7 linked regions of the Homo sapiens genome follow. The protein of the gene in region 3 purifies or fractionates together with the protein of the main gene of each other region. This does not show direct contact. Each region holds a gene or a part of one and is shown on either strand. Other genes may lie near its edges. The genes, in order: RPP14, USP34, RPP21, OBI1, POP1, NACC2 and RPP38.

What was found.
Region 1: the proteins of RPP21 (region 3) and RPP14 purify together in Homo sapiens (co-immunoprecipitation; 3 studies listed by BioGRID and IntAct, with this or other methods). This does not show direct contact.
Region 2: the proteins of RPP21 (region 3) and USP34 purify together in Homo sapiens (affinity purification with mass spectrometry; one large-scale study listed by BioGRID and IntAct). This does not show direct contact.
Region 4: the proteins of RPP21 (region 3) and OBI1 purify together in Homo sapiens (affinity purification with mass spectrometry; one large-scale study listed by BioGRID and IntAct). This does not show direct contact.
Region 5: the proteins of RPP21 (region 3) and POP1 purify together in Homo sapiens (co-immunoprecipitation; 3 studies listed by BioGRID and IntAct, with this or other methods). This does not show direct contact.
Region 6: the proteins of RPP21 (region 3) and NACC2 purify together in Homo sapiens (affinity purification with mass spectrometry; one large-scale study listed by BioGRID and IntAct). This does not show direct contact.
Region 7: the proteins of RPP21 (region 3) and RPP38 purify together in Homo sapiens (co-immunoprecipitation; 3 studies listed by BioGRID and IntAct, with this or other methods). This does not show direct contact.

What each region holds. Positions count from the first base shown.
Region 1 is NC_000003.12:58,304,822-58,309,044, forward strand, and holds the start of RPP14 (ribonuclease P protein subunit p14), read left to right. Parts: upstream 1-1,423; 5' UTR 1,424-1,596; intron 1,597-1,698; exon of another isoform or gene 1,699-1,830; intron 1,831-4,223. UniProt on the Homo sapiens protein: Component of ribonuclease P, a ribonucleoprotein complex that generates mature tRNA molecules by cleaving their 5'-ends.
Region 2 is NC_000002.12:61,345,588-61,349,087, reverse strand, and holds part of USP34 (ubiquitin carboxyl-terminal hydrolase 34), read left to right. Parts: intron 1-201; coding exon 202-332; intron 333-607; coding exon 608-1,218; intron 1,219-3,500. UniProt on the Homo sapiens protein: Ubiquitin hydrolase that can remove conjugated ubiquitin from AXIN1 and AXIN2, thereby acting as a regulator of Wnt signaling pathway.
Region 3 is NC_000006.12:30,343,842-30,347,357, reverse strand, and holds RPP21 (ribonuclease P protein subunit p21), read right to left. Parts: upstream 2,203-3,516; 5' UTR 2,187-2,202; coding exon 2,130-2,186; intron 2,061-2,129; coding exon 1,960-2,060; intron 1,892-1,959; coding exon of another isoform or gene 1,868-1,891; coding exon 1,785-1,867; intron 927-1,784; coding exon 801-926; coding exon of another isoform or gene 794-800; intron 646-793; coding exon 548-645; 3' UTR 501-547; downstream 1-500. Other genes in the region: TRIM39-RPP21 protein, read right to left, coding at 548-645, 801-926, 1,785-1,867, 1,960-2,060. UniProt on the Homo sapiens protein: Component of ribonuclease P, a ribonucleoprotein complex that generates mature tRNA molecules by cleaving their 5'-ends.
Region 4 is NC_000013.11:78,656,356-78,660,504, reverse strand, and holds the start of OBI1 (ORC ubiquitin ligase 1), read left to right. Parts: upstream 1-1,349; 5' UTR 1,350-1,384; coding exon 1,385-1,456; intron 1,457-4,149. UniProt on the Homo sapiens protein: E3 ubiquitin ligase essential for DNA replication origin activation during S phase.
Region 5 is NC_000008.11:98,134,293-98,137,792, reverse strand, and holds part of POP1 (ribonucleases P/MRP protein subunit POP1), read right to left. Parts: intron 3,322-3,500; coding exon 3,134-3,321; intron 1,312-3,133; coding exon 1,055-1,311; intron 933-1,054; coding exon 839-932; intron 1-838. UniProt on the Homo sapiens protein: Component of ribonuclease P, a ribonucleoprotein complex that generates mature tRNA molecules by cleaving their 5'-ends. Also a component of the MRP ribonuclease complex, which cleaves pre-rRNA sequences.
Region 6 is NC_000009.12:136,092,490-136,096,489, reverse strand, and holds the start of NACC2 (nucleus accumbens-associated protein 2), read left to right. Parts: upstream 1-1,200; 5' UTR 1,201-1,301; intron 1,302-4,000.
Region 7 is NC_000010.11:15,096,041-15,100,154, forward strand, and holds the start of RPP38 (ribonuclease P protein subunit p38), read left to right. Parts: upstream 1-1,314; 5' UTR 1,315-1,726; exon of another isoform or gene 1,727-2,093; intron 2,094-4,114. UniProt on the Homo sapiens protein: Component of ribonuclease P, a ribonucleoprotein complex that generates mature tRNA molecules by cleaving their 5'-ends. Also a component of the MRP ribonuclease complex, which cleaves pre-rRNA sequences.

The sequences.
Region 1 (4,223 bases), on a different chromosome or scaffold from region 3:
TCCTGCTTCAGCCTCCCGAGTAACTGGGATTACAGGTGTGCACCACCGTGCCCAGCTAATTTTTGTATTTTCAGTAGAGATGGGGGTCTCACCATGCTGGCCAGGCTGGTCTCGAATTCCTGGCCTCAAGTGATCTGCCCGCCTCAGCCTCCCAAAGTGCTGGAATTACAGGCATGAGCCACTGCGCCTGGCCTGTGCCTCAGTTTCTACCTCTAAAATGGTGATGATCATAGTAATAGCCATCTCAGGATTGTGTGAGGGTTCCATGAGATGACATATGTAAAATATTTTGCATAGTGCCTAGCACAAAGTAAGTCTTTACTTTGTGGGTCTTTCCAGGACGGCCTAGATAGAACACCTACTATGTGCTGGGAGTCACAAGGGACACTGAGAGTGGGTCCTATCTTTGGGGAGTGCTTGACATAGGAGATCTTGAGGAGAGGAGATGCTAGATATAATTTTGTAGGCTGGGCGCGGTGGCTCACGTCTGTAATCCCAACACTTTGGGAGGCGAGGTGGGTGGATTGCCTGAAGTCAGGAGTTTGAGACCTGCTTGGCTAACATAGTGAAACCCTGTCTCTACTAAAAATACAAAAATTAGGCCAGGCGCGGTGGCTCACGCCTGTAATCCCAACACTTTGGGAGGCCGAGGTGGACAGATCACGAGGTCAAGAGATTGAGACCATGCTGGCCAACATGGTGAAACCTCGTCTCGACTAAAAATACAAAAATTAGCTGGGCATGGTGGTGCATGCCTGTAGTCCCAGCTACTTGGGAGGCTGAGGCAGAAGAATCACTTGAAGGGAGGCGGAGGGTGCAGTGAGCCAAGATGGCGCCACTGCACTCCAGCCTGGGCGACAGAGCGAGACTCCATCTCAATAAATAAATTATAATATAATGAAAAAAATGTGTAGAATGACTCGGGCGCAGTTGCTCACGTCTGTAATCCCAGCACTTTGGGAGGCCAAGGTGGGCAGATCACTTGAGGCGAGGAGTTCGAGACCAGCCTGGCCAACATGGTGAAACCCCGTCTCTACTAAAAATACAAAAATTAGCCAGGCATGGTGGAGCATACCTGTAGTCCTAGCTACTCAGGAGGCTGAGGTGGGAGAATCGCTTGAGCCCTGGAGGCGGAGGTAGCAGTAAGCCAGATCGCGCCAGTGCACTCCAGCCTGGGCGACAGAGTGAAACTGTCTCAAAAAAACAACGAAAAAATTGTTGAATGAATGAATGAATGCATGAAGAAATGGATAACTATGAAGCACCGTCCAAGGCGGAAAAAACCCGCCCTAAACCGCACCCCAAGCAAATTGCACACACGGCTTTCCCGGAGTGGACACCAGAGGGCGCTGAGCTCGGCCGCTCTCAGCTCCGGATCAGGATTCGCGCCTGGGTCCTTAGGACGACGCCGCGTGGTGACGTCATATCCGCCTGGGCGTCACGCTTCGTGGGGCGGGACGAGGAGAAGCCAAACGTAAAGACACCAGGAGTTTCTCGGGCCCAGCTGTGGCTGCTGCCGGGGAGCCCCAAGCCTTGGCGGGTCCTTGCGGCGAATAGGAGTCTGGTCAGGCGTCAGGCTAGTCCGACGAAGAGTGGGTAGGTGGAAGCCTTCCAAAGAGCGGCGGTTGTCTGGGAGCCGTCTCAGTTGGCCGCGACCCGGGCGCATGCGCGGGGCGGGCGGTGCGCCTTGGGTAGCTTGTCCTCTCCGACCCCGGGCGCTGAGGGCCTCTGTACGGCGCCGCGTAGGGTCTCGGCCGCAGAACGTGGCCGAGAGGCCCGGGCGAGACTTCGGGACCGTGTCCTGAGCGCTCTCCATGCGCCCGGCGCGAGGTGAGCGCTAAATAGTGGTTGTTGAAAAATATTGAAAGCCACCCAAGTGCTCAGCAGTAAGGATATTGAGCTTTTTAAAGTGATTGATTTAGTCCAAAAATTGTACGTCGCACGCCCACTGTGCACGACCCAGTGTTTTAGGGCCTTGGGAAACAGCAGTGAACAAGATAGCAAGATTCTTGGAGTGGACTTTTGTTGGGGTGGGGAGGGGAAGTACAGATAAAGATAAACGAGTTACATAATTGTCATAGAAAAAGGCAAATGCTACGAAGAAGAAAGCAGGGACGGGGCATGGGGGTGGGGTGCGGTGTTAGCCGAGAAGGGCACTGGGCCAACCCGATTGAGATTTGAGCTAAGCCAGGAAGGGGGCAAGGGTGTGAGTCCGGTGGCTGCCTGGAGGAAGATCTTTCCCAGCATGGGGAAAAGCTAGAGCCGAGGCCCAGCGGTGGGAGCGAGACTGGCGCGTGAGAAAGAGCTAGGCTAGGCCTGTGTGGTGGCGGGGATTGAGCGGAGGGAGAATGGCAGGACATGAAGTCAGAGGTGTAGAGGGAGCAGTCCTGCAGGTGAGGCAGAGCCTTGCAGGCTGCTCTAAGGACTTTGGCCTTACTCTGGATAAAACGGGAACCATAGCAAGATTTTGAGCAGAGGAATGATGTAGCTTGAGTAGATGTTAATAGACTCACTGGCCGCCGTAGGGATGGAGAAGCGGGGGAGTAGGGAGAATCAGATTTATTACTAATAGGTCAGATTAGGAGCATCCCTGCGCAGCCACTAAAAAAGGCTGACTCTAGGCCGGGCGCGGTGGCTCATGCCTGTAATCCCAGCACTTTGAGGGGGCCGAGGTCGGCGGATCACTTGACGCCAGGAGTTCGAGACCAGCCTGGGCCAACATGGCGAAACCCCATTTGTACTAAAAATACAAAAGTTAGCTGGGCGTGATGACGTACGCCTGTAATCCCAGCTACTCAGGAGACTGAGGAGCGAGAATTGCTTCGACCCAAAGCACTCCAGCCTGGGCGACAGAGTGAGACTCCATCTCAAAACAAACAACAAGACTGACTTTAAAGATGACGATGACAGTAACTTCGTGAGCCCACATCTGTGGAGAGCCTGGTGAATATATTTAATACCAGTCTGTACAAAATAATTTCCCAGGTATCCTCTCCTTTAATGTCAGAACAGCCTGCAGAGGGCAGTGCTGTCATTTGTAAGTCTTTTTTTTTTTTTTTAATTGCAAAAAATACGTGACATAAAATTTATCGTAAGTAGCATTGAGTACATTCACAACGCTGTGCAGCCATCACCACTGTCCATCTCGTGAATGTTGTGTAAGTCTTCGTTTTACTGGCATCTAAGCCCTGGGTCTAATTTCACTCCCCTATTTTAGGCAGCCAGCTCCATCAAGGCAGTAACACTAAAAAACATTTATGTGCCAAGCAATGAAAGAAACAGATGAGGTTTCTTGTTCTCCCTGCCCTTCTAGTTAGGGGAGACTCTAGTGACTGGGAAAGAAGCATCAGGTAACTATTTCCGCTGTCCTGAAACCAAGGATTCTTTTGAATATATAGGCCTATACCACTATCACTTTTCTCTCATTTGAATACCTACTTTGTGTCATAGTATTACAGTATTTTTTGTTTGTTTGTTTTGGAGACAGGGTCATGCTCTGTCACCCAGGCTGGAGTGCAGTGGTACAATCACAGTGCACTGTATCCTTAACCTCCCAGACTCAAGCTATCCTCCCACCTCAGCCCCTGGAGTAGCTGGGACTACAGGCACACACTACCATGCCTGGTTAATTTAAGTTTTTTTGTTTTTTTTTTTAGTGACAGGGTCTCACTATGTTTCCCAGGCTGGTCTCAAACTCCTGGCCTCCCAAACTGTTGAGATTACAGGCATGAGCACCACGCCAGGCCCCAAAGTATTAATGTTTGTTGAATGGATTGGTAGATGTAGCTCCTTGACCCTGACTTCTTTTCTCCAGAGGTCATCATCTGGGAGTGGTTGGAACTGGGTCTAACCCAGAGTGGTTTTGAAATGCTGGTCCATAGCTCTGTGACCTTGGATAAGTCCCTTTCCTTGATTGGGCCTCAGTTTCCTGTTCCCTGTAGTGGGGGATCCATATATTAAACAAATAGACAGTGTTAAGAGATTGCATAACATGGGGGCTTAACTTAGAGAAGGGTGTCAGAGAAGACCTTCATGAAGAGGTGGTATTTAAACTGAAAGTTGAAGGATGAATAGGACCTATCCAGAGGGAGAGCAAGGTTGGCATGGAGCCAAGGAAAGGAACTGTCTACAGAGAGATGAGCATGTTCTACGTTCTTGAAAGTTCAGACCTTTTAGAAGCTGCATTGAGTGCCCCTTCCAGGAATCCCTCTTCTCAACCCCTG
Region 2 (3,500 bases), on a different chromosome or scaffold from region 3:
TCTTAAACATCTTGACTTTTAATTGAATCTTACATCTTCTTTAGAAATCATGAGCAAATGTTAACATATTTAGAGATTTTATTTTTGGCTACTTAGCATAAAGCTTTGGTAACTAGGTCAAGGAATCAAATGATAATGTCATTCTGTTAAGTCAATGTTAATATAAATTAGAAGTAAAAACAAAAAATGTATTTTATATAGGGTCACCTGCAGCTAGTCCTCAAAGCAGTGATAATAGCGATACACATCAAAGTGGAGGTAGTGACATTGAAATGGATGAGCAACTTATTAATAGAACCAAACATGTGCAACAACGACTTTCAGACACAGAGGTATGAAAATAGGTTTTTCTTCTTTTATAGGCATTTTTGGCTTTCTGGCGTGTTTATCATTTGAATTGGGTATATATACATAATTCATGTTTGGGCTTGTCCTCTCCTTTACGTAATATTTTTGACATCCTTTGAGTTTTTAATTCCATTTTGTATTGTTCAAAGGAGTATAACAAGACTGGCAGCCTTTTTAAAAAGTACAGTTTATTAATGTTGGTTACCTTTTTTCTTACTGGTTTAAATATTTATTTAAATCTATTTGTTTCAAAATACAGGAATCCATGCAGGGAAGTTCTGACGAAACTGCCAACAGTGGTGAAGATGGAAGCAGTGGTCCTGGTAGCAGTAGTGGGCATAGTGATGGATCTAGCAATGAGGTTAATTCTAGCCACGCAAGCCAGTCAGCTGGGAGCCCTGGCAGTGAGGTACAGTCAGAAGACATTGCAGATATTGAAGCCCTCAAAGAGGAAGATGAAGACGATGATCATGGTCATAATCCTCCCAAAAGCAGTTGTGGTACAGATCTTCGGAATAGAAAGTTAGAGAGTCAAGCAGGCATTTGCCTGGGGGACTCCCAAGGCATGTCAGAAAGAAATGGGACAAGCAGCGGAACAGGAAAGGACCTGGTTTTTAACACTGAATCATTGCCATCAGTAGATAATCGAATGCGAATGCTGGATGCTTGTTCACACTCTGAAGACCCAGAACATGATATTTCAGGGGAAATGAATGCTACTCATATAGCACAAGGGTCTCAGGAGTCTTGTATCACACGAACTGGGGACTTCCTTGGGGAGACTATTGGGAATGAATTATTTAATTGTCGACAATTTATTGGTCCACAGCATCACCACCACCACCACCACCATCACCACCACCACGATGGGTAAGCCTACTTCAAAATAAATATTCAGTTCATATTTCCTTTAGGGAAGTATTATATCCTATATTCAATTTGCAATTTATTCTGTATTAGTGCTATTCATTAGTAGTATAGTGCAAACTATAAATGTAAGCTACAAATAGATAATTTCAAGTTTTCTATTGGGCACATTTAAAAACACAAAATGAAGCAGGTTGTTGGCCATGCACAGTGGCTCACACCTATAATCCCAGCACTTTGGGAGGCCGAGGCAGGTGGATCACTTGAGGTCAGGAGTTTGAGACCAGCCTGAACAACATGGTGAAACCCCATCTCTACTAAAAATAGAAAAATTAGCCGGGCATGGTGGTGCACGCCTGTAATCCCAGCTACTTGGGAGGCTGAGGCAGGAGAATCACTTGAACCTGGGAGGTGGAGGTTGCAGTGAGCTGAGATCACACCACTGCACTCCATCCTGGGCAACAGAGTGAGACTCAAAAGCAAAACGTTGAACAACAACAATAAAAAACCAGGTTGTTAATTTTAATCATGTTAAACCAATAATATCCACAATGCCATTTACACATGTAATAAGTATAAAAATTACTAAGGTATTTCCTTCCTTTTTTTCTTACCAAGTCTTCAATATTTAGTGCATATTTTATACTTATAGCACTTTTCAATTTAGACCAGCCACCCTTTAATTCTTTAAAATATTTATTGATTTATTTGTTTTCTTCTTCTTTTTTTCTTTGAGACAGGGTCTCGCTCTGTTGCCCAGGCCGGAGTGCAGTGGCACGATCTAGGCTCACTGCAACCTCCACTTCCCAGGCTCAAACAATTCTTGTGCCTCAGCCTCCTGAGTAGCTGGAATTACAAGCACCCACCACCATGCCTGGCTACTTTTTTAGTATTTTTAGTAGAGATGGGGTTTCACCGTGTTGACCAGGCTGATCTTGAACTCCTGACCTCAGATGATCTGCCCGCCTCGGCCTCCCAAAGTGCTGGGATCACAGGTGTGAGCCACCAGGCCCGGCCTTTTTTTTTTTTTTTTTTTTTTTTGAGTTGGAATCTCACTCTGTCACCCAGGCTGGAGTGCAGTGGCACAATCTTGGCTCACTGCAACCTCCGTCTCCCAGGTTCAAGCGATTCTTCTGCTTCAGCCTACTGAGCAGCTGGGACTACAGGTGCCCCCCACCCCCCACCCATGCCTGGCTAATTTTTGTATTTTTAGTAGGATGGGGTTTCACCATATTGGCCAGGCTGGTCTTGAACTCCTGACCTTATGATTCGGCCTGCCAAAGTGCTAGGATTGCAGGCGTGAGCCACTGCACCTGGCCTTTTTTTTTTTTTTTTTTTTTTTTTTAAGAGATAGGGTCTCACTTTGTCACCTAGGCTGTAGTGCAGTGATGTGATCATAGCTCACCGTAGTCTCAAACTCTTGGGCTCAAGCAATCCTCCTGCCTCAGCTTTCTGAGCACTTGAGACTTAAGGTGTGTGTTGCCACTCCTAGCTAATTCTTAATTTTTTTTTTTTTTTTTTATAGAGACAGAGTATTGCTATGTTGCCCAGGCTGGTCTTGAACCCCAGACCTCAGTGCTTTTGCCGCAGCCTCCCAAAGCTCTGGGATTACAGGCGTAAGCTACTTATACCCAGCCTAGACCTACCATGTTTTATGTGTGTAATGGTCACATATGGCTAGTTGGTATTATATTGGATAACACAGGATTAGATTTTCAACATCTTGTAATAAATGCCTAAAAAAGATATGAGTGCTTATGGAAACTTTCCTAAATTGTGATTAAGAAAGGGAAATTTTACACATCTAATTTTAGGGTATTTAAAAGGGTAAGCTCCAGCATAAAACTTTTTGGTTATCTGTGAAATATACCAAATAATGTGATTCTGTCACTTAGTGGTGGTATTATGATGGGCAAAATAATTAATTTTTCTTCATTTTTTCAATCTATAAAATGGGAACAATAATCCTAGTGCTTTGGAGGCTAAGGCAGGAGGATCGTTTGAGGCCAGGAGCTTGAGATCAGCCTGAGCAACTTAGTGGGGCCCTGTCTCTACAAAAATATTAAAAACACTAGCCAGGCATGGTATCACACACCTGTAGTTCTAGATAATTGGGAGGCTGAGGTGGAAGGATCGCTTGAGTCCAGGAGATCAAGACTGCAGTGAGTGGTGATTGCACCACTACACTTCAGCCTGGGCAATAGAATGAGACTCTGTCTCTAAAAATAAAATGGGCACAATAGTATCTATCTCATGGTTTTATTGTGAGGATTTCCTGGGCTAAC
Region 3 (3,516 bases):
AGTTGTTTATTCTTAAGAAAACTCTGAGAGTTTACCTATGGGACATAATTGCAAAATGTCTGTCGGTGTCCTTTGTTAGCATCTTTGACTTTGTTAGTTCAGGTTTGCGCCATTTCCTTTATCAGAATTTTATTAAAGACAACTTTGAGACTGGGAAAAGACCTGAGTCTTTTCTGACTATGAGTGGGCCTAGAGGATACAAACACTCTCCGCTGCCCCATATTTCTCCCCTTGTTTAAAAACAGCAGCAGTGGCATCATTCTCTCCAGCTCTTCAGTCAGCAATTATGGCTGCCCAAACATGGAATGCCCTAAGGTGGCTCAGGACATTGATAGGGAACTGGGGCCATGGCCTTGGAAATGCAAGCTGCTGAGTGAGGCCAAGTGGTCTATGGAAATCACGATCTCCCTGCATGGTGGGATTACAAAGGTGACCAAGAAACACAGACAGAAACAGAAGAAAATGGAATTAAGAGTTGAAATACCCACAGAACAGAATCATGGAATGTAAAACAAGTAAACTTTATTTGGGAGATGGGGTGAATCCATCACTGGTTACTGGAACCCTGAGTCTGCATTTTCTCCTCAGGAAGGCGGTCTGAAATGGAGTGGGCTGTGTTTGGCAAGGGTTGTAGTGGTTTGGAATCTGAGTAAATGAGCAGAATCAGAGAAACAGAATTAGTTTTCTGACTGTGGTACTTCTCACACCAACCCAGAACCTGTCCATGTGTCCTCTTCACTCTACGTTCTCCATTGTCCCTATCCTCTGGGGTGTCCTCCATTTTCTCCCTCACCTCTCACCTGCTTGGCTCCCGAGCTGGGCCTCAGGCCTGTCTCCCCAGAGTAAATGCCCGGGATCATTGAGGAAGCGTTGGCTGCGCTGGCATGTTAGGCAGGTCTGTACGGTCCAGCGCTGTCCCCTGCAGCCTAGGGTGAACATGGGAAAAAGACTGTCCACGTTTAGAAGTAACGGTCTCTTGCTGCCAGTTTTGCCTCCAGTGTTTTTCAGTAGGTATCCCCGCTCCCCCACCACACCCCCAATTTGAATGCACATTTGATGGTGTCAGGCCTCGGCATAAGCTCCATCGATTTCCTGGAACTCTTTAAGATAAAGTTCAAACTCCCTAACAAGACTTCAAGAACTGGCCTGTTTCCCCCTCCAGTCTCATGTTTTGCCCTCCTACCTCAAACTCCAGCCTCCTGAACTCTCATTTCTTTGACAGCACCACAAGCTCTCTTGTCTCAGAGTCTGCACACATGCCTAGAATTTCCATCTCTCACTCCCTTTGCTTATCATAAACTTCGCCACCACTGGCATGAGTAAGTGAGCATTCTACTCCCCCAGTTAATCTTTTTCTACACCATTTTGTTTCTTAGTCTGTCCCATCAGACCGTAATTTCAATGAGAATAATGAATCTAGCACAGTACCTGACACATTTTAGAAAATAAGTATTTGCTTAATAAATGAATGGTGATGGGAATCGTCCTCCACAAAGCCGAACAACATCTATTATTGTGCATGGGTGGGGTTGCCTCTTAAAAGTTATTATTTATTGCCCACACTGGAAGAAAAAAAAAAAAAACAGCCGAGCCCAAACCCTAGTTTGTGCAAGTGGCGTTAGGAACTTAATCCAAACCCGAAGAAGGAAGACTCCTGCGAATCCCACACCCAACATCCATCTACAGTGAGAAAGGCGCTGTTGGCCTCCAGTGCCCGCCCCCCACCCCGCCCCCCTCCGCGCCCCCAATGCTCCGCAGTCTTCCACCTCCGTTGGAGCACTCACGTCTCTGGCGCTGGGTGCAGGTGAGGCCCGGGACGAGGAGGGAAGAGCAGCCTCGACAGAGAGTCCTCTTCACCGAGGGATCCCTGGGGGCGGAGGAGGATAGTGGTCTGGCGCCCGCGCTCCCTCTCGCGTTCCTCCCGCGTCCCGCCCGCCGCCCGCCCCGTGGCTGTCTCACCGCCGCAAGACGAGCCGCTTCGCAATGGTCCTCTCAGTGTAGCAGTAAAACCTCGCCAGCGCCTGGTTCTCGGGGTCCTGGGCAAGGACACAATGGGCGGCCTGCGGGAGGGGAGCAGTCACTCTGGGACGCCGAGCACCGTCCCCGTGGGGCCCTTGTCGCAGACTCACCTGGTACAGGAAGTTGAGCCTCTGGAAGGCCTCGCGGTCCTTCACCGGCCCCGCCATCACCGCCGCGCTCCAGGGCCTCCCGCAGCCCCACCCCTCGCACAGCCCCGCCCGGGCGTCCGCGCGAGGCCTCCTGGGAAACGTAGTCCCCGCGCCCTCGGGAGCCTCCCGGAGGCCTCACAAACTCATCGGTTTCTAAACACAACCCCAGCAATCCATGCCCAGGGTCCCTTTATGAATTTTCAGTGCTTTTGTCTTCCTCAAGCTCATGACCAATTATATCACCTAGAGACCTAGTGGAGCAGGTGAGGATCTTAAATCGGCCATTTTCAGGACAGAAGGCTGGTCTCTTTATGTAGCTACGTTGGGGAGATGGTTATGTGCAATTTATACCCAGCTAGAGCTTCTGCCCTACTCTCCTGAGGTCCGAGGCAGATGCCTGTAAGATCTACAGACGGAAGGCACAGAGGTAATACATTAAAAAAAAGCACTGGTGCCAGTGGGGGTGAAAGTGGGAAGGATCATGAGGGTGCTGGAGGGAGGGAAAAGGACTCCCGGTCCTCAGAAAGCACAGTTTACTCCTACTATTCCACCTACCAAAGAAACACACTTCCTGTTATGCAGTGCTGGACACACAGTAGGTGATCCTCACTTTCTGAGTGAATGGTTTCTAACTCCTAGGCTTAGGTACAGCACAGAAATCTGTCAACAGCATCCCCTGCCCCTGAAACTTCACCCCACTCCCCACACTGACATTCACCTCACACCCCTCCCTCTGACCTCTTCTATCTTCCAGTTCTTCTGTCTGGTGTCCTGTGACTCATAGTGACTATCAGTTACTGAAGTCAGAAGCAGAGGGACATGAATTGGAGGGGTAGAAGATCAATGAACCCTGAGATGGGGAGGGCAGCATAAGTCAGGAGAGGATGACTTCTCTCCAATTTCAGACCCAGTGCCAGGCGGGGACAGACAAGCAGGGCTCCAGCTGGGAGGAAGGACATGGCTGAAACCTCCTCTGGAACTAGTTTCACAAGGGTTTTCGGACTCAAATGAGAGTGGTGTGTTTAAAATGTAGATGTAGGCTGGGCACGGTGGCTCACACCTGTAATCCTAGCACTTTGAGTGGCTGAGGCAGGTAGATTACTTGAGTTCAGGAGTTCGAGACCAGCCTGTCCAACATGGCAAAACCCTGTCTCCACTAAAATTAGCCGGGTGTGGTGGTGCATGGCTATAGTCCATAGTAATCCCAGCTACTCTGGAGGCTGAGGCAGGAGAATTGCTTGAACCTGGGAGGCGGAGGTTGCAGTGAGCTGAGATCACCACTGTACTCCAGCCTGGGCGACAGAACGAGACTCTGTCTCATAAATAAAATGTAGATGTCCGGCCCACC
Region 4 (4,149 bases), on a different chromosome or scaffold from region 3:
AACATGGGGAAACCACTCCCCGACCCTCGAGGCAGGCGGATCACTTGAGGTCAGGAGTTGGAGACCAGCCTGACCAACAGGGTGAAACTCCGTCTTTACTAAAAATACAAAAATTAGCCAAGCATGGTGGCGCATGACTGTAATCCCAGCTACTCGGGAGGCTGGCTGAGGCAGGCGGATGGGATCGCTTGAGCCTGGGAGGTCGCTGTGTTGGCACCTAGTGGTGACAGAGCTAGACCCTATCTCAAAAAACAAAACAAAAGTTGCCAGAAGCCATGGAGCTACCGTTTAGGTAGGAAGTTGTTGGGGGCAGGGATTTCCGCTGAAGCAGCCCAGGTCCAGAACCCCTTTCTCTTAACCATGAGGCTGCTTCTTGAAGTCATACTGCGTCTTTTTCACAAAGATTAGTAAAAGTTGTCCCGATGGTCTTGTCTTTAAATCTCTCAACTCACAGATTTTACTTGTTAGCGTAATTTATCACATCAGCTCTTCCTCGCTTCAAGTAAGTTGCAGATAAATTCCAAATTTGTTATACTGCATTTAAGATAAATTTAGGAACTTTTAGGTTTTTTTCTTTTTTGTTGGTAGGAAACGCAACTTATAACCTCACAAATTCTCCCTTGGGGTTCAACAACACAGCGGTACATTTCATATGCAACCATGCACCTGAAATGAAGACGTGAAAACGTTAATCTCCTTTTGGTGGAAAACCCAGAGAAGCCCACAGTAAAAATGTATTTTCAGGGAAAGCTGCGATTAAATGTATCAGGATCGTCTCGGACACAGATAAGGAGACAATCACTGTTTTCTTAAGTGAATTATTGTGCCCTCTGGAAGCACATTATATTGAGTGGAAAGAGAACTGACAGAGGTGGAAAGCTGTTTTGAAAAAAATTGAAACGTGTAGATAATGTCTTTTCTCTATGTTTTGATTACGCTGTGTTGGCGGATGTGTGGGGTTTAATAATTAGGCGAAAAACTCTCCATCCTTCACCCCATCCAATCCCCGAAAACAATTTGGGGATTTAAAAAATCGCCTTTCCGTATCTTCCTCTTCTGTCTCCACTATTCCGCTTTCCTTTAGATTTTCCAAGATCCTCGATACTTGTAGTAAACTACCTTCCTACACATTCGCAGGAATCTTGCAGCTCCCTAATCAGTGAATTTTCTTTCTTTCTTTCTTTCTTTCTTTTTTTTTTTTTTTTTTTTAATGAAAGGAAAACGCCTTGGAGATCGCGCGTTTCGAAAGCGCGTTTTCGTTTTCTCTCCTGGGCGGGTTATGGCCCTACCGGGGCGCCGTAGCCGGCCCGCGCGTGCCCAGTCTTGGCGAAGAGTAGCGGTAGGTCGGCGGGACTTCCGTGTTGGCGGGATTCTGAACGCTGCCATGGCTCAGACCGTGCAGAATGTTACATTGTCGCTCACTCTGCCCATCACGTGCCACATTTGCTTGGGGAAGGTAATGGGTGATTGTGGGCACAGCTACAAAACGGGGTTGGATAAGTCGCTCGCCGGGGCCGAGGGCCGTCTCGTGCGGGGGCGGGGAAGGGGCGTGAGGCGCGGAGATGGGAGAAAACGCTAACCCGCGTTCTTGATGGGAGGCCGCGTCCTGGGAGATGGGGGTAGCGCACCGTGATTAATGGATTCATCTGGGCGCCTTTCGGAGGAGGGTGACAGCGGCCCGTGGTCTGCCGGGAGGGCGGCGAGACGGCCCTGCCACCGCCCGCGGCCTCACACTGGCAAGACACCGGCCTCGAAGGAGGCCCCATCAGAAACGCATCGCAGGGATATTTAACTTCCCTCTGCAGCCTCGCGTGGCGTGTAGTGAAGCCCATTAAAACACATTTCCTGGGAGCCTCACCTCGGGCTTCTTAGTCCTCTGTAACTAGTGTTCATCCTCTGGGGCCTACGGTGCTGTGTATTGAGTCTTTTCCATTTCCAAGACCTTTTGCCTTTATCCTGGCCTTGAGGATGACCTTTGCTCTGAATTCCTAATTTGAAAAGTAAATAGTAAGTGCTCCTGGAGGGTATTAGAATAAGAGGTGTGGCTTTTAACTCCAAGAATGGGTCAGTCAGGAGATAGAATACTCTCTCTTTGTGATGCAAGAGGTGCCTAGTGTGTTTGTGAAACAAGGTAGGGAAAGTGGTTCTGAATTAGAAACGGAGCTTTGAATATTCTAATGCATTCCTCTCCTCTTTCATTTCCATTTGTGCCTCACTTTCGGTGTTTTAAAGAGCATTTCTTTACCGAATAGATAAAGAAGGGGAAAGATAAACCACCAACTTTTTTCCACCCTGAATTATTTTTACGTCTGTGGTGTGTCAGGGTGTGTGTTTACCCCCCAGCGCAGACTGAGCCGTAGACTCAGATTTGAGAAATACAAACTTCTAGAGCAAGCATTTGAGTGCCGGCCAATACGATCTGCCTGGGGTGTTTGAAGTTCTGTGTGAATTTACTGGATTCAAAAAGTAGAAGAAAGTCAGCATTGGAAGCAACTGATAATTCTGGATAGCAGTCAGAATGAAATGCCAATGAAATAGCAAATGTGCTGGGAGATCATGGATTGGGGATGGCTTGATCAATTTGGAGAGATCAAGGATGGCCTCATCGAGGATGGTGTTTGAGCTGGCATTGAGCTATTACTTACTGCCTGCACGGCTAGGGGGAGGGAAGAAGCGATGTTTCTATTTGCCACAGTCTACATTTGGCTCCTGACATAAAGTTCCTGGAAATATGTGTTAAATTCTGAGTTAATTTCCTCCAACACTGGCTTTAAAGGCTGATAAAAATATTCTTGGGAAGTATTTTGTACACATTATATATAGTTTCCATTAGTTATAGGCTGTCTTTTGCAATTGTATTGACAGTGTTCTGTTTGATTTACCAAACCTATACTTTTTGTATTTAACGAGAGTGATACCTCATAGAATATAGTGATTTGCAGACTACAGAGTGCTTTTGTATGCATATATTATTTTGTTTACTCTTCACACCAATGCTTTAAGATAGGGCTGGTTTTTCCATTTTTAAAATAAGAATATTAAAGCTTAGAGTCTGTGGTTGAACCTCTATACTATCATTTGTGTCTTCAGAATACTAAGACTTTGAGTCTTCATAGTTGAACCTCTATCATTATTACCATTTGTCTTCAGATTACTTCGTAAAACCCTCACCTAAGTTCATCCATGACATCAGGCATTTTTAGTGTTTTTTTTTTCCTGTATTGGTTAACTTTATTCTGAAATAAAAATCAGATAATAAAAATAAAAAGATTAAGACTTTTGTCTTAATCTTATGTGCCAGACTTTATGCTAAACTTTGCACATGCTTCATTTAATCTTCTGAAAACAGAAAGGATGGGGAGTTGATGTTATTACCATATTTCTACTGTTACAGATAAGGAAACAGGCTCAAAAAGGTTAAGCCAGGCGCGGTGGCTCACGCCTGTAATCCCAGCACTTTGGGAGGCCGAGGCGGGCAGATCGCCTGAGGTCAGGAGTTTGAGACCAGCATGGCCAATATGGTGAAACCCCATCGCTACTAAAAATACAAAATTTGCTGGGTGTGGTGGCAGGCGCCTGTAATCCCAGTTGAGGCAGGAGAATTGCTTGAACCTGGGAGGCGGAGGTTGTAGTGAGCTGAGATCGCGCCATTGCACTCCAGCCTGGGCAACAAGAGTGAGACTTTGTCTCAAAAAAAAAAAAAAAAAAAAAATTAAAAATAAAAGAAAATTAATTAATTAAGGATTTTTAAACAGGCTCCTCCCCCCCCCCCCCCAGGTACCATGGAAGCAGAAAGGATATGTGACTGAGGGCCTGAGTTCTACATTCAGGCTAGCCGGGTTCTAATCTAATCTACCACTTACCACTCATACAACCTTTTACAAGTTACTTAACTTTTTTTCTTTTTTTTTTCTTTTTTTCTGAGACGGAGTTTCGCTCTTGTTGCCCGGGCTGGAGAGCAATGGCGCGATCTCGGCTCACCGCAACCTCCGCCTCCCGGGTTCAAGCAATTCTCCTGCCTCAGCCTCCTGAGTAGCTGGGATTACAGGCATGCGCCACCACGCCCGGCAAATTTTGTATTTTTGGTAGAGACGGGGTTTCTCCATGTTGGTCAGGCTGGTCTTGAACTCCCGAACTAGGTGATCTGCC
Region 5 (3,500 bases), on a different chromosome or scaffold from region 3:
GTTAAGTAAAGGTATAAATTCAGTTCCTCAGTCACTCTAGCCACAATTCAAGTATTCAACTGCCACATGTGGCTAATGGCTGTCGTACTGGACAGCACAAAGGAACATCATCCTCACAGAAAGCTCTACTGGAAGTGCTGCCCTAGACATACTGCTCTTAACCTTTTTAGAGATTCTAGACCCCTAAAACTAGCCCCAGAAAACCAGCCAGGTGCGGTGACTCATGCCTGTAATCCCAGCATTTTGGGAGGCCAAGGTGGGCGGATCACCTGAGGTCAAGAGTTCCAGACCAGCCTGTCCAACATGGTGAAACCCTGTCTCTACTAGCTGGGCCTGGTGGTGTGCACCTATAGTCTCAGCTACTCGGGGGGCTGAGGCAGGAGAATCGCTTGAACCCAGGAGGCAGAGGGTGCAGTGAACCAAGATCGCACCACTGCATTCCAGCCTGGGCAACAGGATGAGACTCAATCTCAGAAAAAAAAAAAGAAAAGAAAACCTACATGGCACACGCACACATCACAAAATCTGGCACACAATTTCAGGGATTTTAGAGACTCCCTACCTATGAAGCAGAAGTTAAGACCCTCTACAAGACTCACAGATGCAAGAGCAGTCTGTATTTAAGTAAGAACAGTCAGTTTACTGATCATATCCACTTAGTTGTGGTCTTCTAGGAGAAGTGAAAGATAACAAAATCTTTGATAATAAGCATAATAAGTAGGGAAATAAACATCTAAAAGCCATGGCCCAAAATGTTACCAAATTATATATTAGGTTTCACAAATTTGACAGGAAAAACATGATTAGAATAAAACACTACAGTCACTTTTACTCTTACAGTGTGGACAGAAGCAGCTTTTATTGCTTCAGTTAGGATGGAGTGGGAAAGTGGCCCAATCAGCCGGAATCTGTTCATCTCCATCGTCAAATCGCTGAAAAAGAAAGAACATCTTAAAATGGAAACTTTCATCACACAACATCTGTGCCACTGACAAAAATGGAGCAGGTCTTCACTGAAAATGTTCAGTAGGTTCAAAGCAAATTCAACTCATACCTGATTATAATGCCTGTGGTTGGAGAGATCCAAGAGTATGGTAGACATGGATCTCTAGTTCCATCACCGATAATTTTTTTAATTGGTTTAGCATTTTCTCCATCATCTTTCCTTTTTCTTTTCTTGCCAATTTTCTCGTCAGGCAATTCAGTTTGGCTTTTTTCTTGGGATGGTGTTGGAAGTGGGTCAGCGATGCAGACAGCTGATTTGATGGGTTCCACACACTGGCACGCTGCTTTTATTTCCTCTAAGATATCCTAAAAATATATTTAAACATTCACTTTAAAATCTTGAAATTTAAATATATTACGACAAATTTAGTTGGGTTTTTTTTTTTAAATCTCTTTAAAAATTAACATTTTTGGCCAGGCACGGTGGCTCATACCTGTAATCCCAGCACTTTGGGAGGCCGAGGTGGGTAGATTACCTGAGATCAGGAGTTCGAGCCCAGCCTGACCAACTGGCAAAACTCCATCTCTACTGAAAAATACAAAAAATAGTTGGGTGGCAGGCACCTATAATCTCAGCTACTCAGGAGGCTAAGGCAGGAGAATCACTTGAACCTGGGAGGCAGAGGTTGCAGTGAGCTGAGATCGTGCCATCGCACTCCAGCCCGGGCAACAGAGCAAGACTCCGTCTCAAAAAAAAATAAAAAATAAAAAATAAAAAAAAATCACATTTGTATTCCCTCACAAATTAACTTAAATTAAATTTATCATCAAAAAGCTTTTTTCGGCCAGGTGTGGTGGCTCACGTCTGTAATCTCAGCACTTTGGGAAGCTGAGGCAGGAGGATGGCTTCAGCCCAGGAGTTTGAGACCATGGCCTGGGCAACATAGGGAGACCTTGTTCCTACACAAAATAAAAAAATAATTAGCTGGACAAGGTGGTGCACCCCTGTAGTCTAAGCTACTCGGGGAGGCTGAGGTAGGAGGATCATTTGAGCCTGGGAAGTAGAGGCTGCAGTGGGCTATGACTGCACCACTGCACTCAAGTCTCAATGACAGAGCAAAACCCTCTGGGAAAAAAAAATTTTTTTTAATTTAATTTTAATTTTTGAAAAAAAGCTTTTTTGGGTGTTCTGAGTAGTGTATGCCACTTTAAACAAAAAAAAATTTTGAAACTGAAAATTTCAAATGGGTTAATTAGGGCTGGGGCTAGGGGTAGGGTTAGTCAAATATTATGAAAACAACATGATCACTCTGACTACATTTTTTTAAAGTAGTGAGTATGCTAAAGAAGGGAAGCTAAGCTAAATTCAGTGTGAAAAATCATTAGAATTACTCAAAAATAGCTTTTCATTATCAAATAGCCCCTAGATACTAGTGAACCACTTCAGTCATGGTAGAAACATTAGTTCAAATTCAACATTTCAAATAATTAGCATAAGGCTGGTTTTTATCTCTACTTCTGCTTATGACTTACTAAAAATATGAGATGTCAAGATTAGTTTTTTTTTTTTTCGAGACAGGGTCTCACTGTCACCCAGGCTGGAGTGCAATAGCACGATTTCATCTCACTGCAACTCTGCCTCCTGGGCTCAAAGTGATCCTCCCGCCTCAGCCTCCCAAGTAGCTGAGACTACAGGTGCATGCCACCAATCCTAGCTAATTTTTGTCTTTTTTGCAGAGACAGGGTTTCACCGTGTTGCCCAGCCTAGTCTCAAACTCTTGGATTCAAGTGATCCAACTGCTTCAGCCTCCCAAAGTGGTGGGATTACAGGCATGAGAAACCATGCCCCGCCCTGACTTCATTATATTTGATAAACAAGTTCCGGGGATATAATGTACAGCATGGGTGGTGATGGATGTGTTATTTGATTGTGGTATACAACATGTATATCAAATCATCATATTATATACTTTGAATATATTTGCTTTTTGTCAATTAGACATTTTTAAATACAAATTTTTAAAGTTTTTTAAAAATTCACTTCATTCAATAATCATAGAGCCCCCCATATACAAATATCAGACTATCAGACAAACCTTTACACTATTTACATTTCTACAGTATTGACTTCCAGCAGTAATTAAAAATGCAGTTTCAGAATGACGGGAGATAACCTGAAGGATTATACCTGTTTAAGGGTTGGATGCAGCCAGATCCACAGCTGCCTGCTCTCAGAAGGGTCACCCGGGGTCCTCTGGGACTTCCAGATAAACGTAACAGGCCCAAGCATTTCTCTGGGATATTTATTCACCCGATAAAGCACAAGGCTCCCTTGGCGCTTTCCAGACAAGCAGTGAACTGCTGCAAACGTCAGCCCTGACATCAACAAAAGCAAAATTCCATAATTCCGGGTGTTGAGACTGCAGTCCTATTTCCTGATAACCACACTGTCATTTACTGTCTGCCTCCATGAGAGGTGAAGTTTTGGTTGTGAGGATTGCTCAGATCAAAGCCTGGCACACAATAAGTTCTCAACAAATATGTGTTAAATGAGT
Region 6 (4,000 bases), on a different chromosome or scaffold from region 3:
GACGCAGAGCTGAATAGAACCTAAAGTTGGGGTCAAGGGCCAGTCTGTGGCCAAGATCAAGGGCCTAGCTTGAGGTTGGGGTGACAAGAACCTGGCCAAGCTTCTGATGATTTGTCCAGGGAATGACCTTGGCTGACTGTGCCAGAAGGGCTGTAGCCCCAGGTTTCTGATCCCCAGAGCCCCAAAGGCGTTCTCTGGGATGCTGGTGGCCATCTCCTTCTCAACCCTTCTCCCAGCGCCCTCGCTCGGGACCACTGAGGCGGTATCACTCCATTCTCCTGCAAGGACCCTTGAGCGTGCTGTGGGAGTGAGGCTGGCTTAGCCTCTGAGGACCACTGCAGCCTGTCCTGACCTCAGGCCCCAGGTTAGGGGGCAGCTGAGGAGGGGTCTCTGGGTCTTTCCGGGTGTGTGGCCGTTTTATTTCCGTGCCCTTGTTTTAAAACTGCACCTCTGTCCTCAGGAGCGTGGCCTTGGGCAGATGGAGAGCTGCGTGGCCGGTGCCGGAATGACTGTCAACGCCCCAGTGCGCCCGGATCACACCAGGCCTGAAGGCAGCGCCAGGCCCAGTCCAGGCAGCTTGCAGTTCCCGGGCCGCAGGGACGGGCGCCGGAGCCCCGCAGACGTTCGCCCAAGGGCGCTCCCGTATCCTCGTCTTTCACGGCCCGCCTGAGCGTCCAGGGCGGCTGCGGATGCGCGCACTTCCCCCGCCCGGATCCCGGAGGCTGCACCGTGCGGACGCGACTGCCGCGGGCAGGGCGCGCGCCGGGGGCGGGGTAGGGGGGCCCGGGGGCTCTCCCGGGCTTAGCGAGTCCGGCCGAGGCCGGGGCCCGGGGAGGGCGGAGGGCGGCGCTCCAGGTCCTTTCCCGACCCGGCCGCCGAGCTCCGTCCTCTGCGCCGCGGCGTCCGGCTCCCGCCGGGTGTCCCGCGCAGGGTCGACCGCCGGCAGCTCCGGAAGGAGGACGCGCGAGGGGCGAGGAGCTGCCGCCTCCCCTCCCCAGCGCTCGGGGTTCCCCACGCCCCGCCGGCCCCCACTGGGGACCCTCCCGGCCCCCGGACCCCAGCCCCGACCCCGGGAGCCCACCTGGCTGCCAGTGCGCGCGCGCGCGCGGCCGGCGCGCTGTCCCTTTAACGGCCCGCGGGCACCTCCCCCGCCGCCGCCCCGCCCCCGCCGCGGTGCGGCCGCCGGTGCTGGGCGAGGTCGGAGAAAGTCCATGGGAGCCGGAGCGCCGGGACGCCAAGCACTTCCTGCCGCGGGCGGCGCGCCGCAGCTGCCCAGGCCGGACCGGGCCGGGCGCCCGCAGGTACCGCCAACTTGGCGCGCGCGGCCGCCCCCGGGTTACGCCGCCGGGCGGGGTCGTCCCACGGGCCGGGCCCGCACTTCCCGCAAACTCCGCGGCCGCCCAACTTGGCGCGAGCCCCCTGCCGCAGTGCCGGCCGCGCGGGGCGGGTGCGGCCGAGTTCCGCGCCGGCCCGGGCGTGCGCGCGGGAACCGGCCTCGGGAGCCCGCGGAGGGGGGCCGGGCGGGGCCGGGGGGTCCCGGCGGAGGCGCCCGCGACCCCGGGCCGGGACGCCGCGCCGCGCGTTCGGGGAGACCCCGGCTCCGGGCGTCCCGGGGCGCTCCCCGCCGCCTGCTGGGTTTCCCTGGATTTCTGGGGACCCGCGCGGCCTCCCCAGGGACCCGACTGGCCGATCCAGCCCTCCGGGTGGGGAAGCCGGGGCAGGACTGGCCCGGGGCCAGGGCGGAGGTACCCACCCCTCCCGGCGCATCTGCGCAGCTGCCTGGCCCAGCCGGGCCCGCGCCTCGCCCTCCCGGTCCAGGTGGGCCCGTTCGTGGGTCGTCACCGCCTCCCGCGCCTCCCCCACTCGGGCCCCAGCCTGGGGAGAAACTGGGGTCCGGCCGCAGGGGGAGGGGGCTCTGCCTCTTGCCAGCTTCTGTGCCTCTGCGGAGCTGAGGTCGGGGGGCCCCAGCTCCTTCTCTAAGAAACTCAGCGGAGCCCGGGGCCCGCCGCGCACCCCGCACGGCCAGGGCGGACCGAGGCCTTCCGACGGAGTTTCCTGCTTCTCTTGCTGGGATCGTGTGGGGTCGGAGGTCAGAGGTCACCTCCCAGCCCCTCTGCCAGGCTCTGGGGGAAGTTTGGTCTTGGACTCTCGTCGTGGAGCCGCTTAAACCTGTGGGTCTGAAGGCCGCGAGGCCGGGTCCCTGGAGTTGGCCTCCCAGGCCGTTCCACTCCCTCCCCCAACCCCCGCGCGGGGCCTCCGGATTGGAGGTGTTTCACCCACGTGCTGGTGGGCCCGTCTCCCTGGGCCGCTGGGTGCCCTGAGCTGTGTTCTCTGCTGCGCGTTCCTTCCTGTGTGTGGCGGGGGTGCTGACCCGGGGGTGCCCAAGGCAGCCCGGACTCCCATCCCGTGGAGCTGCCTCCGGGAGCGCGTGCACCTTGGTGTTCCCGCCCGCCAGCGCGGCCGCACTCTCCTGCCAGAGTCCGTGTCCCTCCAGGTCGCCCCTTCTTCTCACCCACCCCTCTTTTCGTCTGGCAGGCTCCTGACCTCCTTCCCTCCTGTTCTCCAGTGGGACACTCAGCTCAGCATTCTGCAGGGTGTTTTAGCCTGTAGCACCCCCCAGCAGGGGCGCCTAGAGTTAGGTCAGGGTTCAGGCAGCCCCCGCCCCACCCGCCACCTCTCAGCCACCCACCCCTTCTTCTCCCGGCCACCGTTGGAGCACCCCTCTGGTCCTCTGTGGGGCCTTTCCCAGCCCCTCCCTTAAAGAGGCCTCTTGGCGTTTTCCCCTGGGGTCACTGTTGGGTGGTAGCTGGGCCAGAGTCCAAGGGGAGGAAATAAAAGGAGCTGCCACCCAAGGTGGTGGCCCCCTGTCCTTTCGGCAAAGCCACTTGGAATGGGCACAGAGAGTGGAACAAGATATCACTTGTCACTTCTTAGTGGCCAGGGATCCTTTCGCAGTGGTCACACCCAGGGCTCGATGGTGCTGGCCCTGGCCTGGCGGGAAGGCGGGGAGGAGCCACCCGGGAGATCTCCTGCTGGGAGCAGTGGGAGCTGGGCTGCTACAGGCTGCGAGAACAGGCTCTGTTCTTTACCACCGGCTGCTGGAAGGGTTCGCAGGGCTGCTCTGCCCTGGGCAGGGGGCTAGTGGTGACTTTTAAAAAATTCTTCAATCCTCCCTTTGTTTTCCAATTAAAGCATGAGGCTGCATTATTCATGAAACAACAGTGACGATCTTGGTGCTGAGCGGTTCTTCCAGGCCTGCACTCCTCTTGGCCTCTGCCTCCGGAGTCCTGCTTTCCTGGTTTGTGGGCAGTGTGGTCTCCCAGGCCCGAGGGATGGAATGGGGAACCAAGGTGTTGTCCTTTTCGGGATGTTGAGTTCCCAAGGTTCCACCTTGTGCCCCTTCCTCTGAGGTCTGTGCCTCTGACCTGTGTCCCTGGAACGCACAGGGCACCGAGTGCCCAGTGGCCCCAGCCACCGTCAGTGGGGCAGAGCCCATGTTCCTTCCTCAGCCAGCCCTGTTCTAGCCACCTCCACACACTGTCCCCAGGCTGCCTCTCTGCATCTCACAGCCCCTTGGGGTCACTCCATCCCCTTTGCAGGGTCACGCAGTGGGTTCCGAGATCCAGTTGGACTGTGGCCGGTGGGATGAGGGTCGGAGTCCACAGGGGGGCAGCAGGTGGCACCCCTTACCCCAGGATACACCAGCATGTTTCTCCGGAGAACCAAGGCCTTCTACAGACCCCAGTGTAACGAACACATTTGGGAACTTGACTATGGGGCCCCCTGACTCTGCTGCTCCTCCGGCCCAGTCCACCTTCACCTTGGTAGCACATGTCCCTGCCTCAGTGGCCCAGGCTGACCAGCCTCCCATTGTGGTTCTGAGGACAAGGTAGGCCACCTTCCACTTCAGGGTGACATTTCTGGCCTGGGCTGAGGAAACCTGGGGCTGGGCTTCCAGGCGTGGCTCGAAGGAGAAGCAAAGCCCTGTGGTGTGAGGCCG
Region 7 (4,114 bases), on a different chromosome or scaffold from region 3:
CAGTAGCTCATGCCTGTAATCCCAGCACTTTGGAAGGCCGAGGTGGGCGGATCACCTGAGGTCAGGAGTTCGAGACCAGCCTGACTAACATGGTGAAACACCGTCTGTACTAAAAATACAAAAATTAGCTGGGCTGGTGGCCCGTGCCTGTAACCCCAGCTACTCCGGAGGCTGAGGCAGGAGAATCACCTGAACCTGTGAGGCGCTGGCTGGAGTGAGCCAGGTTCGCGCCATTGCACTCCAGCCTGGGCAACAAGGGCAAAACTCTGTCTCAACAACAATAATAATAATAAATAAAAGAAAGAAATCACAGAAACTATACCAGAAAATAGGATACAAAACCAACAGTGAGGAGATTGAGAAAAGGAGGCAGATACGTAAAGAGGAAAAGGAAGGGGGCCCAAGTAAGGCCGGAAAAAGCGGGGAGAAGGAGGAGGCTCATTAGGTCAGAAGCAACCTGCCGTCTTCTAAGTTCTGGCCAAGGGTAGATCAACAGATCCAGATTCCTGAGCTTTAAAATGTTATTCGGCCGCTTCATCACTTGTCCCCGACTTTGCAGCGACTCCGATGGTAGCCTGAGTCTCCATTGCTTGGAGCAGCCACAGTGGACACTGGACGGGATATTCTGTGCAGCTGTTGCTGAACTCAAGGCAACTCTTACTGCCTTTCTCTTTTCGGGCTCAAGATTCCCTGCATTATTGCCCATAGGCATGTGTTTTACCCCATACTCCTTCTCCCTTTTATCTTGATTTTCGCGGTGCTGGGGAGTCTGCAGGGATTCCATGGCGACGGGCTCACTGGGACAGGGGCTGGGGTTGTGCGTCCCTGAGGCAAGGCAAATACAGAAAAGCGAATAGAGACAGAGGGCTAAGATTCCAAAGCACTGAAAGGTAGAAACTGGGTTAGAAGAGAGAGGGGAGCACAAACGCCCGGAGAGAGCGAGCCCTCGGGATACCATTGGCTATAGGCTGGCCTCCGAACAACTGGACGGTCCAAGTCCTGAGCGTCTGGTTACCCGGGCAACCGCATGGTCTCGCGATACATACCTCGCGCCTGCGCACTGCCCCTGTAGCGGGGGTGGGGGGACCCGGTCCGGAGACTCCACCCCGGGGCCTAAACTCGAGTCTAAAAGATTGGGCCTCGTTGTGTCGTTTCCGGGTCGCGCGACGCTGTGGGCCGCTTTCCCCTCTCCGGAGTGACCTAACACAGGATAACGAAACCTGCACTGCTCCGAGCGCTTCCTCCCCGGCCCGTCGCGTCTGCGAGGCGAGGCCGGGAGGCGAGGGCTCTGCGCACGCGCGGCGCAGGCGCACTGGGCGCCGGTGCTGTTGCCTTCAGGTGACCACGGATTCGCCATCGTGAGTTCCAGGTGGGCGCGCGGGGCCCACGTAGGGCAGGAGGCCAGCCCCGGGGGGATCGGGCCCGGGACTCTGCGGAATCTGGAGGCCGAAGCCCGCGCGCACGCAGGGTCTCTGCTGCTTCCCCAACGCCTGTTGCGTGGCCGCAGGACCCGCCGCCCTCCCGGTTGGGCCGCCCAGTCCCGGGCCGGGCGCGTGCACCCAGAGCTTCCGCGTTTCTAGTCCGGCTCCTCTGCTGGATTGCAGCGCCGGCTGGGCACCAGGAGTACAAAGCGAAAACCCCCGCCGGCCCTTCTGTTCTCCACGGTCTCCAAGGAGACACGGACAACAGAACAACACTTCCGTGTGCTAAATAGTAAAGCACCAAGGTACTCGATCCAGGGGCGGCGTGCAGTGGGGAGGTGAGCTTTGGGTCGGCCGTCGCCCCTCGGCTACCGGCGGGATCCAGAAACCGGGAGTCACCACCAATACCGTTCTCAACTTTACTTCCAGCTGGTCACTACTGTGTCGGGAGATTCTACCTTCTTTTCCGACTAACATGTATTTTTCTCCAGTCCTTTCTGCGGCGTCTCTAGTGCAGGCCACCGTCATTTCTAACCTGGACGACTCCAGGAGCGTCTTTGCTGCTCGGGGACTCTTCCTTTGCCCAGATCCACAAAGATCTATAACGTCTTTCTAATCACGACACCTCTGCTTTAGATGTTAAAGTTGCTTCACACTGGAACGCTTGCAAAGGTCTTCATTATCTGGTCCTTACCCACCTTTCCTAGTTTCTCACCGCTTTCTCTAGCATCTCTGCCCCAGCCACATTGAACTTATTTGAACGTGTTTTTTTTTTTTTTTTTTTTTTTGAGACATAGCAGTCGCCCAGGCTGGAGTGCAGTGGCGCGATTCCGGCTCACTGCAACCTCCGCCTGCCGGGTTCAAGCGATTCTCCTGCCTCAGCCTCCCGAGTAGCTGGGACTACAGGCGCCTGCCACCACGCCCGGCTAATTTTCGTATTTTTAGTAGAGACGGGTCACCACGTTGGTCAGGCTAGTCTCGATCTACTGACCTCAAGTGATCCGCCCGCCTGGGCTTCCCAAAGTGCTGGGATTACAGGCGTGAGCCACCTCGCCAGCCAACTTATTTCTTTTAATACTGAGATACCTTTCTTTACTCCATACTTCCTTTGGTAGGCATTGTTTAGATGTAGGTTAAGAGGTCCGGCCCGGCGCGGTGGCTCACGCCTGTAGTCCCAGCACTTTGGGAGGCCGAGGCGGGCGGATCACAAAGTCAGGAGATCGAGACCATCCTGGCCAACATGGTGAAACCCCGTCTCTACTAAAAATACAAGAATTAGCCGGGCGTGATGGCCCGTGCCTGTAGTCCCAGCTACTCGGGAGTCTGAGGCAGGAGAATCGCTTGAACCCTGGAGGCGGAGGATGCAGTGAGCCGAGATTGTGCCACTGCACTTCAGCCTGGCGACAGAATGAGACTCCGTCTCAAAAAAAAAAAAAAAAAAAAAAGTTCCTCTGTGAGGACTGCCTTTTCCCACCCCCCTCAACTAAGCTAGGCCTCTGCTGGATGTTCCCTAAGCATACTGTTCCCTGACCTTCATGTGCATCAGGCTTTATTGTATAATTACTTGCTAATATTTTTTCCTCGTGGACTCTAAGCTCATGAGGTCTGTGAGAAAAAATACTTAATCTTTATGGCCTGGCACATCGTGGATAATCGATAAATATTTGTTGAAGAAAGGAAGGGGCCTGCGGCTGAGGGTGGGAGTGGTATTCCAGGCAGAGGGACTAATGTGTATAAAGACTTGCAGGTGGGAAAATGCTGGCCTCATTAAATAGTATGTTGTTCGGTGTTGAGGACTTGTGCTTGGTGGGGCCTAAGGAGAAAGAGGGCCTAAGTGGGAGATTGAGCTGGAGTGTGGAGGGCCTTTTATGTCACATTAGAGTTTAGGCGGGGCATGGTAGCTCATGCCCTCAATCCCAGTACTTTTGGGGAGGCCGAGGCTACGGGATTGCCTGAGCCTAGGAGTTGAAGACCAGCCCAGGCAACAAAGCAAGACCTTGTCTCTATAGAATTTCTTTTTTTTTTTTTTTTAAGACGGAGTCTTACTCCATTGCCCAGGCTGGAGCACAGTGGTGCAATTACGGCTCATTGCAGCCTCCGCCTTCTGGGTTCAAGCAATTCCCCTACCTCAGCCACCCACCTAAGTAGCTGGGATTACAGGTGTGCACCAGCACTCCTGGCTAATTTTTGTATTTTTAGTAGAGACTGGGTTTCACCATATTTGCCAGGCTGGTCTCGAACTCCTGACCTCAAGTGATCTGTCCAGCTTGTCCTCCCAAAGTGCTGGGATTACAGGTGTGAGCCACCGTGCCCAGCCTATACAGAAAATTTAAAAATTAAAAAAATTTTCTGGGCTTGGTGGTATGCGCCTATAATCCCAGCTATTCAGCATGAGGCTGAGGTGGGAGGATTGCTTGAACCCAGAAGTTCAAGGCTGCAGTGAGCCATGATCGAACGACTGCACTACTGCCAGGTGACAGGGCAAGACTGTCTAGTAAAAAGAGTTTGCCCTTGATCTACAGGCAGCAGAGGCCTCTTGAGACAGCTCTAAAGGGCCCTCAGCAAAGCCTATTTTTCTCTCTTTCTCTAAAGCTATAAAATCTTATCAGTCAGTACTTTGTTTCTGGATTATATTGCGTGAGATTATGCTTATCCAGACTACTTGGCTCTCTTTATCGCCCCAGCAGATTCTG